Homo sapiens: one gene and its partners. The protein of the gene in region 1 purifies or fractionates together with the protein of each later gene. This does not show direct contact. Each region holds a gene or a part of one and is shown in the gene's direction. Other genes may lie near its edges.

Region 1 (3,656 bases):
CCCGGACCATGCTTTATGAAACACTCCACTAGGGATACAGAAATGAAATCAGACTCAGTACCGGTCCTTAGAGTGTTTATACGTTAATAGAGGAAATAAGATAAATGTAAATTGTCAGGGAACAACCGCTCACAGCATCTAGGGTTCACCAACAATAGAATGCACTAACTGAAGGAACTGGTAAGGTTTCAAGTAAAAAGAAAAAGAAAACTAGGAAAAAAATTTTTTTCTCTGACAGGGCAAAAAAAATATATAAAGCTTTTCTCGATGCAGGAAACTCTAATATTACCTTTAGAGTTTTAACCTATTCACTTTTTTTTTTGAGACAGACGTCTCGCTCTGTCACCCAGGCTGAAGTGCAATGGTGAGACCTCAGCTCACTGCAACCTCTGCCTCCCGGGTTCAAGTGATTCTCCTGCTTCAGCCTCCCGAGTAGCTAGGATTACAGGTGCCCGCCACCACGCCTGGCTAATTTTTGTATTTTTAGTGGAAACAGGGTTTCACCATGTTGGCCAGGCTGGTCTCGAACTCCTGACCTCAGGTGATCTGCCTGCCTCGGCCTCCCAAAGTGCTGGAATTACAGGTGTGAGCCACCGTCCCTGGCCCACTTGTTATTTTTGAGTAGTCTAATACAGATATAGCAAATATCACATCAAAGTTTTGGCTGAAAATTATTTTATCTGAAAACTATAATTTAACAGTTCATTGCCTAACATGAAATCAGAAGAGATGTTATGAAAATCACATTTAAACATAATAATAATATATACATATACACACATATATATGTACTCTCATTTCCAAAGACCCAAAAGTATATTACTAACTTTTCACGTTAATGACTCATTTTAGCAATGCTATGGAAAATGTCACATGCAGATCTAAGACTACAAATAAGAAGTTATGCATTCTAGTCTTAGTGCTCCCAGGTATGGGTGCAGAGAATGTATAAAGTCATTTTGCTACTAATGTGGGAAGAGAGCTAGGCTAGAACGGTCAGTTCAACAGACTGGAACGCATATAAAGGCTGCTGTTTTCCATTTTCCTTCTTTTTTTTTTGTTTTTTGTTTTTTTTTTTTGAGATGGAGTTTCACTCTTGTCCCCCATGCTGGAGTGCAGTGGCGTAATCTCAGCTCACTGCAACCTCTGTCTCCAGGGCTCAAGCGATTCTCCTGCCTCAGCCTCTCAGGTAGCTGGGATTACAGGCGTGTGCCACCGCACCCGGCTAAGTTGTTTTTTGTTTTTTTTTTTCTTTTTTTGTATTTTTAGTAAAGATGGGGTTTTGCCATGTTGGCCAGGCTGGTCTTGAACTCCTAACTTCAGGTGATCTGCCCGCCTCAGCCTCCCAAAGTGCTGGGATTACAGGCGCGAGCCACCGTGCCCAGCCAAGACTACCGTTTTCAACTCCATTTCTATGGGAGTTGAATGAGGTATGGAATTCCCTATGAGATTTTGTGTTCTGGCTATAGCTTTTCAAAGGAAAATGTGTCTAAGTCTAGCATGGTTTCTTGGAAGAGATATGTGGGAGACAACTTCATACCCTCATCTACAGTAACAACCACCATAAACATTTATTGAACACCTACTGTGTGTAAGGTAATACAGACATCCTCCCTCATATAGCTTACGTTTTAGTTGGAGAGACAAAGCAAGCACAAAAAGAGGTGAAGGACCAGCTCAACAGACCATGTGCTCAACAAGAAAGAGAGAGAGAAGTGAGAAGTGGACAGACCAGAGAAGTCTTCCTAAACAGTACTTGAGCTGGGTATTGAAGGGTGGGAGAGAAGGACCTCCTGTTCATTCATTCATTTATCAGATTAATCCAATAATGAATGTGCTTGGCATCATGAATGTAATGGTGAATAAATTTCAATAAAATTGAAAGGGTTCCTGTCCTGTTGCAGTTTACAACCCAGATAAATAAACCATAGAATTTACAACACTGTAATATGTGCTATGACAATGGTAAACTCAGAAGAAAGGTACCTTATCCAGATGGCTGGTGTGTGGGAAAACTCCAGAATAAACAAGATCAAAATTGACATTTTAAAAAATAGGCATTAACTAAGCAAAGAGTAGAAGTGTTCTAGGCAGAGAGAATGGCATCTTGTAACATCCCAGGGCAAGAGAGAGCAAGACATTGATGTAGAGTGGGAGAAGTAAGGGCAAAGGAGCCAAGGGAAGAACAGATTGGGTATGTACTAGGGACAGTGTGGACACTTGTCAGGTTACAGCGCTAGGAGATAGGTCTGGCAGGTTAGGAGGTGAAGGAGTCTGTATTATCTCTGGAAGCAGTGGACACTCACTAAAGGTTACTGAGCCAGGAGAGGATAGCATGGGTAAAGCGATGATTTAGGAAGATAGCCCCCAAGTATGGGCAGGGTGGCAGGATGCTTCAGTGGGATTTCTCAGAGCAGGCTCTAGTCAGGGTTCAACAAATTATTTGATCTAACTATATTTCCCTACTTTGTGATTGCTTTTCCTCTCTTCCCCTCTGCATAGTACTTCCCAGCAGGATAGACAACTGCATGAAATCGGAACCGACTCTACTCCTGTTAGATGAGTATGGAGTTTCGATCTAAGTGATTGCTTCTCCTCTTTTCCCCTATGCACAGTACTTCCCAGTAAGACAGACCATTGCATGAAATCGGAACTGACTACACTTTTGTTAGATGAGTATGAACTTTCCATCTATGACCTGAATGGAGACCTGAAGGGCCGGGAAGCATGGCCAAACTACTATGCACAGGCCCATGGGCTTGTTTTCGTCCTGGATTCCAGTGACATAAGACGCATGCAGGAAGTGAAGATCATCTTAACACATCTGCTGTCCGATAAAAGAGTGGCAGGGAAACCCATCTTAATGTAAGATTCTGCCTTTCTGTCCTATTTCTGCTTCCCAATTTGTACCCTTAAAAGTATAGAAATGAAGGGTGGGGTGGTCCCTTTGTCACACCCAGCTAGGCCTCCTGTTCCCTTAGGCTCAGTGAGGTAGAGCGGCCCAATTTTCTGAGGTTTGTTCTCAAGAGCTACTTTCTACCACACACTGCCATGGGGGACAAGTTACCTAACTGTACAAAGGTAATTTTGAAGGGAAGCATCAAAGGGAAATGAAAAGTGGTATCCACCACCTCCACCCCTTGACTCTTCCTGAAGACTATCTTCCTGAATTTGCTTATCATCTTTTCTGGTTTCGGTCTCTGATCCTGAAACCTCATGATAGCAGAGAACTCCTATCTTGTATAATTGATGCCAATGACCTCCTCTCTGATCAGATTGCTCAAAAGTTACATAACTAGCACTTATTCCAGGGTGATAATGCAGGTGGCCAGTCAATTCTCATCCCCGCCCCCATCTCCCTTTATGCTTCTTTCATTCCTCATTAGCAACCCCAACTAGAGCATGAACAGAGTTTGGGAAAGGATGTAAAAACTCCAAATATGTTCATAGCCCAGTTAGCAATTCTAATTAAAGTTTGATAGCATAATGTAGGGGAAGTGAGAAATGAGCCCTGGGGGGACTATCTTGGATTCAAATGATTTGTGCTATACTTTCCATCATTGGAAGTTGACTAGAAAAATGTCTAGCTCATCTCATTAGGTATGTCTTTAAACCTAATTCCTGGATATGTAGCAGTTATAGTAGAATTTGTTCTC
Region 2 (3,656 bases), on another chromosome or scaffold:
GATTCAAGCATTGACACTGACTAAAGAGAAGGTCCCGTTAGAGCGAAATGCTGGATCCCCAGTGTATATGAAAGGTGTCACTAAGTCTGGGATTCCAATTTCCTGGTACCGAGATCTGCACGATGTTCCAAAAGGTAATTACCTTTATGTGGATTAATGAAAGAATTTTGATCACAACCCTCACAGTATTGATGGGACTGTAACTTTTTACAGCAATATAATAGATTGAGTTACTGCTGCCAAGTCCCTTATCCATAGAGAGTAGCCTACTTTTTTCTAGAAAAGAGCATCTTAATAGAAAATAAAGTTGCCTGACATTAAGTAGTAGTTTATTTCATGAAGCTTTGTAAAATCCCAAACAAAATGTAAATCTCCTTTGTACTTTTGAGTATTTCCCTATAGCTAGGGTTGTACCGATGACGGAGCAGCCCAAGGCAGCTGGGGCTGATGGAAGCAGTGTTAGTAGGTGGGTTTAGTTCAGTTATAGAGTCTTTTAAAAAATCCTTACTTGCCTAAAGACAAGCAAGGTGTGGGGGAAAATCCCTGTACTAGTCAGGAATACTGACTAGTATTGACTAGTTTGAGTCTTGACTCAAAGCCAAAGTGGGGGTACGATCTTGGGTAAGGGATCTCAAGCCATTCCTGCCTCAGCCTTCTCAGGCTGAGAAGCCCGATTTTATGAAATCAAATTCCCTTCCAGCTAACAACTCTGACTTCTAATTTCTTTCAAGCCTTGTGATGAATAAAAGCTTTAACTGCTATTTCAGGTATTTCCATTTTCTGACCCCATTTATGTGTAAAATAAGAATAGTAATAATTGTTCTATGTTCTGCAGTGTAAGTTTTCCATGAAGAGGTAGATAATTCTGTGGTAGTGATGATTATGGAGGAAGTAGGCATTTTTTTTACAGTTAATATTCAAAAGAATTAATTCCTGTGAAATGTGGAAACATTAATTGTTTTCCTCTTTTTAAATAGGGTACAGCTTTTATCTTGCACATGAATTTTTTGATGTTCTTCCTGTGCATAAATTTCAGGTATTGAGGGGGGAAAAAAGTCATGTCTATAATTGAATACAAAAGGCATTGTGTTGCCAATGTTTATGGTATTTATTCAGTATACAAATTTTACTTGTTGAGGTTATTTTTAACTATTATTTGGAATTTTGGTACACAAATAATTCAAAAGCAAAAAATGAAATATTAATGAGAATTGTTAGTTCTCCTGGGATAATTATTAAGAATTCTTAATTCTTCTGATTTGAAGAAGTAAGGGAATGAAAAATGGTAAGATGGTAACTGGCTGTGGTGCAATGAAGGATTTACTTAAGCAAAAAAAAAATTTTCTTTTTTAAGAGATAGGGTATTGCTATGTTGCCCAGGCTGGTCTTGAACTCCAGGGCTCAAGTGTTCATCCTGCCTCAGCATCCCAAGGAGCTGGGACTACAGGTGTGCGCCACTGCACCCAGCCAACCTTAGCACATTTTAAAAAATTATAGATTAAACTTTTTTGGGCCAGGCATGGTGGCTTACACCTGTAATCTCAGCACTTTGGGAGGGCGAGGTGGGTGAATCACTTGAGGTCAGGAGTTCAAGACCAGCCTGGCCAACATGACAAAACCCTGTGTCTACTAAAAATAGAAAAATTATCTGGGCTTGGTGGCACGTGCCTGTACTTCCCAGCTACTAGGGAGGCTGAGGCATGAGAATCACTTGAACCCAGGAGGCAGAGGTTGCAGTGAGCTGAGATTGCACCACTGCACTCCAGCCTGGGCAACAAAGCGAGAGCTTGTCTCAAAAAAAAAATAATAAAACTTTTCTTCATTCTTTCTGTGAGGAGATTTAAGATTTGGTGATAATGTATATGTACTGGTAATTTGTGAGGAGAAGAGCAGCTCTCATGATCCTGTAGTAATTTGTTAGTAAAGCTTCTGGCTGTTCTTCCTGAGTCTATTTCCGTTTTTGGGGTACTTTCCATGCTGCTGATTTTATCTTCCACAGCGTCATCTCTGTTATTGTTTCTTTTGCATCGATTGGTCTACTCATTGTTCAAAGGCAATGAAGTAATGAATTTAAGTAATTTTAAATAGTAAGTTCTCTGTAAATGTTAGTTACTTATGGTAAGAGGAGAAAAAGCTATTTTTGGTAGAAGCAATGTAGAGAACAAACTTGCAAAAATTTGTTTTTATGTGTTATTTTGTGTTTAGAAAACACCACAGGGATGGCGAGAAGTATTTGTTGACATTGATCCACAGGTTTCTGATAAACTGAGGTTTGTTTTGGCACCTTCTGCCACCCCAGCAGAAGCCTTCATACAAGTAAGAATATGCTTTTTTAAGTTTCTTTTATTGCTCACAGAATCTTCAAAGTCTTATTTTCTGAGTTACTACTTTAGAGTTTTAGAGTTCCTTTACAGGAAGAGTTGCTAGTAGCATACGAGGTGCTTTTTATTGACAGTGAAAGTGCAGAGGAGCTAGAGGCAGGAGCATGGGTTAAAATCATTTCTTAAGTGTGTGACCTTAACGTCATGTAGTAAGAGAAAGTAAGTAACCGCTTACTCAGCCAAGTCTCTTACTTTCACTGCTTATCTCAGTTTCATGTCAAATGGTAATGGTATTGTCCACAGGAAGAGTTTACATCTGTGAAAGCAATGTAGTACAGACTATAGTAAATTAACAATAACAGCTAACGTTTGTTGAGTACTTTGTGTTACTCTGTTTTCTCATTTAATTCTCAAAGCAACTATATTAGGTAGGTTCTATTATTATCCTTCTTTGGGCTACAGCATGGCTTTTATCCCATGCTTCCACACAGATCTCAGTTTGATTCGGCCAGAATGGTAGAATTACTACTGCTTTCTGTTGATCTCAAGGAATCATTGCAAGAGCCTGTCTATTGTGGCTTGTTTAAAGGTACAAAAAAATCCCTGTACTTCTCAGGAACGTCCAGGCTTCAGACTGCCTCTTTTTTTTTAATCCTTTTTTTCCAGCTCAGAAGATGATTTTTACTTTCTGGACCTTAACTGAGAACTTCTTACTTAGAAATTATCAGTTTTAAAAGCACAAGAGCTTTTAAACTTAAATGTATGAATTAAGTTTTGTTAAGTATAAATTTAAATGTCAGACTGAACACTTATGAACACCTGTTTTTTCATAGTATAGCAATCTAAGTTTACCTGAATGACATATTCATAGAACTACCAAGAACTAACCTCCTGGCCCTGGGAGTTCATTTAGTTCTTGACCTAATTAGTATTCACTTAGGAAGGGAGGGAGCGAATATTCTCTTTCACTTGAATGAGATGCGTGGTAATACATGTCATCTTGAAGAGTAGCCTAAGATAGAATGTCAGCATGATCAGCGTGTCCACTGATGCCTGATGAGGCTGACTTCATGGTTTTTATAGTTAAGCCACAGTAATTTGATTGCACTATTAGCTAAATGGTTAGTTATATTTAATCCTCACAATAAACCTACAATATCTATAAGGAAGAAAACAACTCAGAAAGTTTAAGTAACTTGTCTACCAGTAAGCATAGGAAGAGCTGAGATTTAACTTCATCTGACTCTATGCCTGTTACCATAGGCAGACATCAGGGCAGGTCATTACTGCATTTCTATAATAAGGTGTTAGGAAGGAGTACAAGTTAATGTATGT
Region 3 (3,656 bases), on another chromosome or scaffold:
AGTAAAATTTACAAATTTTAAAGTTAAGTGGTTAAAAGTTATTGTCAATAAATATTTGAGTCCTAGGGAGTATAGTAACTTTGAGTGTAAACTTTAATCTATGCCTCAGAGATCCTAGATGGAACAGTTGTTAAGAAGAAAAGATAGATACACTTTGGGAGGCCGAGGCAGGTAGACTGCTTGAGCTCAGGAGTTCAAGATCAGCCTGGGCAACATGATGAAACCCCATCTCTACAAAAAATACAAAAATCATCTGGGTGTGGTGGCATGCACCTGTAGTCCCAGCTGTTTGTGGGCGGGTGGGGGGTGGGAGGATTGCTTGAGCCCAGGAGGCAGAGATTGCAGTGAGCGGTGATCGTGCCACTGCACTCCAGCCTGGGTGACAGAGTGAGGCGCTGTCTCAAAAAAAAAGGAAAGCAAGAAAGAAAAGATGGGAAAGAGTATAGATGTAAATGACTAAACATAAACTTTATAGAGTGGTATGCACCTGAACAGTGCCAAAGATGATTCTTGGATTGTCTATTTTTAGATGATTTCTACATATAGTAATTAAGATTTTAGTAGTTAGAAAAAAATACATTTGAAAGATATCTTCAGTAACCCTTGCCCTCAAGATGGAGTATATTATCCCGTATGTTTTCATACTTTTGCTAAATAGTGGCTATTCATAAACTACATTAGATTATTTCTCTGTTTTTAGATCTACATAAGTGAAGCTGGGTGTGGTGGCTCATGCCTGTAATCCCAGCACTTTGGGAGGTCAAGGCAGGAGGATCACTTGAGGTCAGCAGGTCGGGAGTTGGCCACCCTGGCCAACATGGCAAAACCCCCTCTCTACTAAAAATACAAAAATTAGCCAGGTGTGGTGGCGCACACCTGTAGTTCCAGCACCTCAGGAGGCTGAGACGTGAGAATCACTCTAACCCAGCAGGCGGAGGTTACAGTGAGCAGAGATTGTGCCACTGCACTCCAGCCTGGGCAACACTGCAAGACTCTGTCTTAAAAAAAAAATTATGTAAATGTTATCATACTGTGTGTGTGTATATCCTTTGGTAACTTTTTCTCCACTCAACTATGTGCTTTTGAAATGTATCTTTGTTAATGCATGTAGATCTAGATTTCTTTTAGCTACTACATAATACCAGTTTATCATTCCCCTACTGATTTATCATAGGGGAATGATTAACCAGTTTATCATTCCCCTACTGATGCACAATTAGATATTTCTCCTTTGTTTCTATTACAATGGAGTTTGAGTGAGCTACTTTATACATATGTCATGTTAATAGTTTCTATAGGATGTATACCTATAAGTGAATATAATAGGATATGACATCTTCAACATTACTAGGCATTGCCAAATTTCTATCAAAAGTAGATGTACTAAATTTACACTGTCATCAACAAAGTATAAGAATTCCAAATTCCATGTCTTATCAGACTTTTTGATTTTTGCCAAATCTAATGGGTATATTGATAATATTTATATCTTAAAGAAGGGAATCCGAATTTGCTTTGAAGCAAATATGTGTTAAGTCTGTATGGTAGATACTAGTCTAAGTAAATCCATCGATCTTCCATAATTCTTTAGTAGATAGAAGAGTACAAAGAGAAATACAAATATTTGTTAAACTGTTCTGATTTATTTATTTCTATCTTGCTGGTTTCATTTAATATACTAATAAATTCATTGCAATTCTTCTACAGATCTTTAATGTGCACATCTGTCCCTAACTATGTGAATATATCTGTAAAATGGACTTGTTCATTGCCAATTGTCCTTCTCACTCGTCTTTCAGTGACTTAAAGTTTATTCTACCACATTACTTTATCATTTTCTGATGCCTGCTTTTTATAGATGAAATCAGACATCACTGAAGGAGTTGATATTCCAAAGAAACCTAGATTGGAGAAACCAGAAACACAGTCATCTCCCATTACTGTCCAAAGTAGCAAGGATTTACCTATGGCTGACCTTTCCAGTTTTGAGGAGACCAGTGCTGATGATTTTGCCATGGAGATGGGATTGGCCTGCGTTGTTTGTAGGTAAGTTGTACCTTGCCACAGATTCTTTTGTTACTTTATAAAGAACACATGACCCTTTCCACTCCTCAACCCCCAAAATCAGAAAAATTGTTGTGCATTTTCTATTTTGTTTTTACTATTTGGAACTGGGGTGGAGATAAGTAGGTAACTGCCCATATAACAATTTAGCATATTGAAAATTGTCAACTATTTTGTCTTTCCCAACTATGGCTTTTAAATCTGTTATGTTGTAACATTTTCTGCATTTTTGGGTTCCAGAGGGAAAGTGATTATTATATTATGATATATATGCCTTTGATAATCTAAGGCTATGGTGATTGCTTTTTGTGCTGTTGAAATTTATACTTTTTTATACACACATGGCTTCATTCTATTAATCTGATCAGACATTTATTGAGCACCCTATGTGTGCACAGTAATGTGCTAAGGACTGTGGATAATTAGGTCCAGTACTCACCTTTAGGTGACTCATATTAATGAAGAACAACAACAACATACAGCTAACTAATATAAGGGAATTTAATGGAGATACAAAATGTTATGAGGCTGTTGGAAGACTAATCAGAGTCTACTACCTTCTGAGAGAAAGGCAAAAATTATGACGAGAAATGACGAGAAAATAGCCAAATTTAATTAAGGCATTCTATATATTTATTAATGGTTGACCATAAGCTTTAAAAGCTTATGCTTTTGTGCATGCCAAGTGTTGGGGTTTGTTATTTGCTCTTTGGGTTTCTGGGATTTTTTTTCTTTTTAATATACCAAACTTTACCAGAACAACCTGGAAATAACTTTTTTTTTTTTTTTTTTTTTTTGAGACAGAGTCTTACTCTGTCACCAAGGCTGGAGTGCAGTGGCATGATCTTGGCTCACTGCAGCGTCCATCTCCTGGGTTCAAGCGATTCTCCTGCCTCAGCCTCCTGAGTAGTGGGGATTATAGGTGTGTACCACCATGCCCAGCTGATTTTTGTATTTTTAGTAGAGACAGGGTTTCACCGTGTCAGCCAGGCTGGTCTTGAACTCCTGACTTCAAATGATCCGCCTGCCTTGGCCTCCCAAAGTGCTGGGATTACAGGCATGAGCCAGCACACCTGGCCCCTGAAATAACTTTAAATTATGGCATTTAAAAAAGTAGTGTAATGTTTAATGGTATGTTTTCTTAGGCAAATGATGGTGGCATCTGGCAATCAATTAGTAGAATGTCAGGAGTGCCATAATCTCTACCACCGAGATTGTCATAAACCCCAGGTGACAGACAAGGAAGCGAATGACCCTCGCCTGGTGTGGTATTGTGCCCGATGTACCAGACAAATGAAAAGAATGGTAGGAATCATATTTTTCTTTATTTTAAACAGTCTGTCAATGTTTTTGTTGGTATGTGCTTTCAAAACAAAGATTTGAATATTTAAGATATTGAAAAAATAAATAATATAAGCTGATTATTTATTTATATGTATAGTATGTACATGTGATTAATATTTCTATTGCTAAAGACCAGACCATGTTATGTGCATTTTTCTCTTTTTAGTTTTATCTAATTCTAATATAGATAAAACAAGATTGGTGACACACAAATTATGAATATTCCTTACTAGTCTGTCAATGTATTG

The links.
Region 2: the proteins of ARL13A (region 1) and NDUFAF7 purify together in Homo sapiens (affinity purification with mass spectrometry; 2 studies listed by BioGRID and IntAct, with this or other methods). This does not show direct contact.
Region 3: the proteins of ARL13A (region 1) and INTS12 purify together in Homo sapiens (affinity purification with mass spectrometry; 2 studies listed by BioGRID and IntAct, with this or other methods). This does not show direct contact.

What each region holds. Positions count from the first base shown.
Region 1 is NC_000023.11:100,983,052-100,986,707, forward strand, and holds part of ARL13A (ADP-ribosylation factor-like protein 13A), read left to right. Parts: intron 1-2,615; coding exon 2,616-2,865; intron 2,866-3,656.
Region 2 is NC_000002.12:37,241,658-37,245,313, forward strand, and holds part of NDUFAF7 (protein arginine methyltransferase NDUFAF7, mitochondrial), read left to right. Parts: coding exon 1-134; exon of another isoform or gene 135-767; intron 768-977; coding exon 978-1,036; intron 1,037-2,205; coding exon 2,206-2,316; intron 2,317-3,656. UniProt on the Homo sapiens protein: Arginine methyltransferase involved in the assembly or stability of mitochondrial NADH:ubiquinone oxidoreductase complex (complex I).
Region 3 is NC_000004.12:105,691,689-105,695,344, reverse strand, and holds part of INTS12 (integrator complex subunit 12), read left to right. Parts: intron 1-1,858; coding exon 1,859-2,046; intron 2,047-3,209; coding exon 3,210-3,369; intron 3,370-3,656. UniProt on the Homo sapiens protein: Component of the integrator complex, a multiprotein complex that terminates RNA polymerase II (Pol II) transcription in the promoter-proximal region of genes.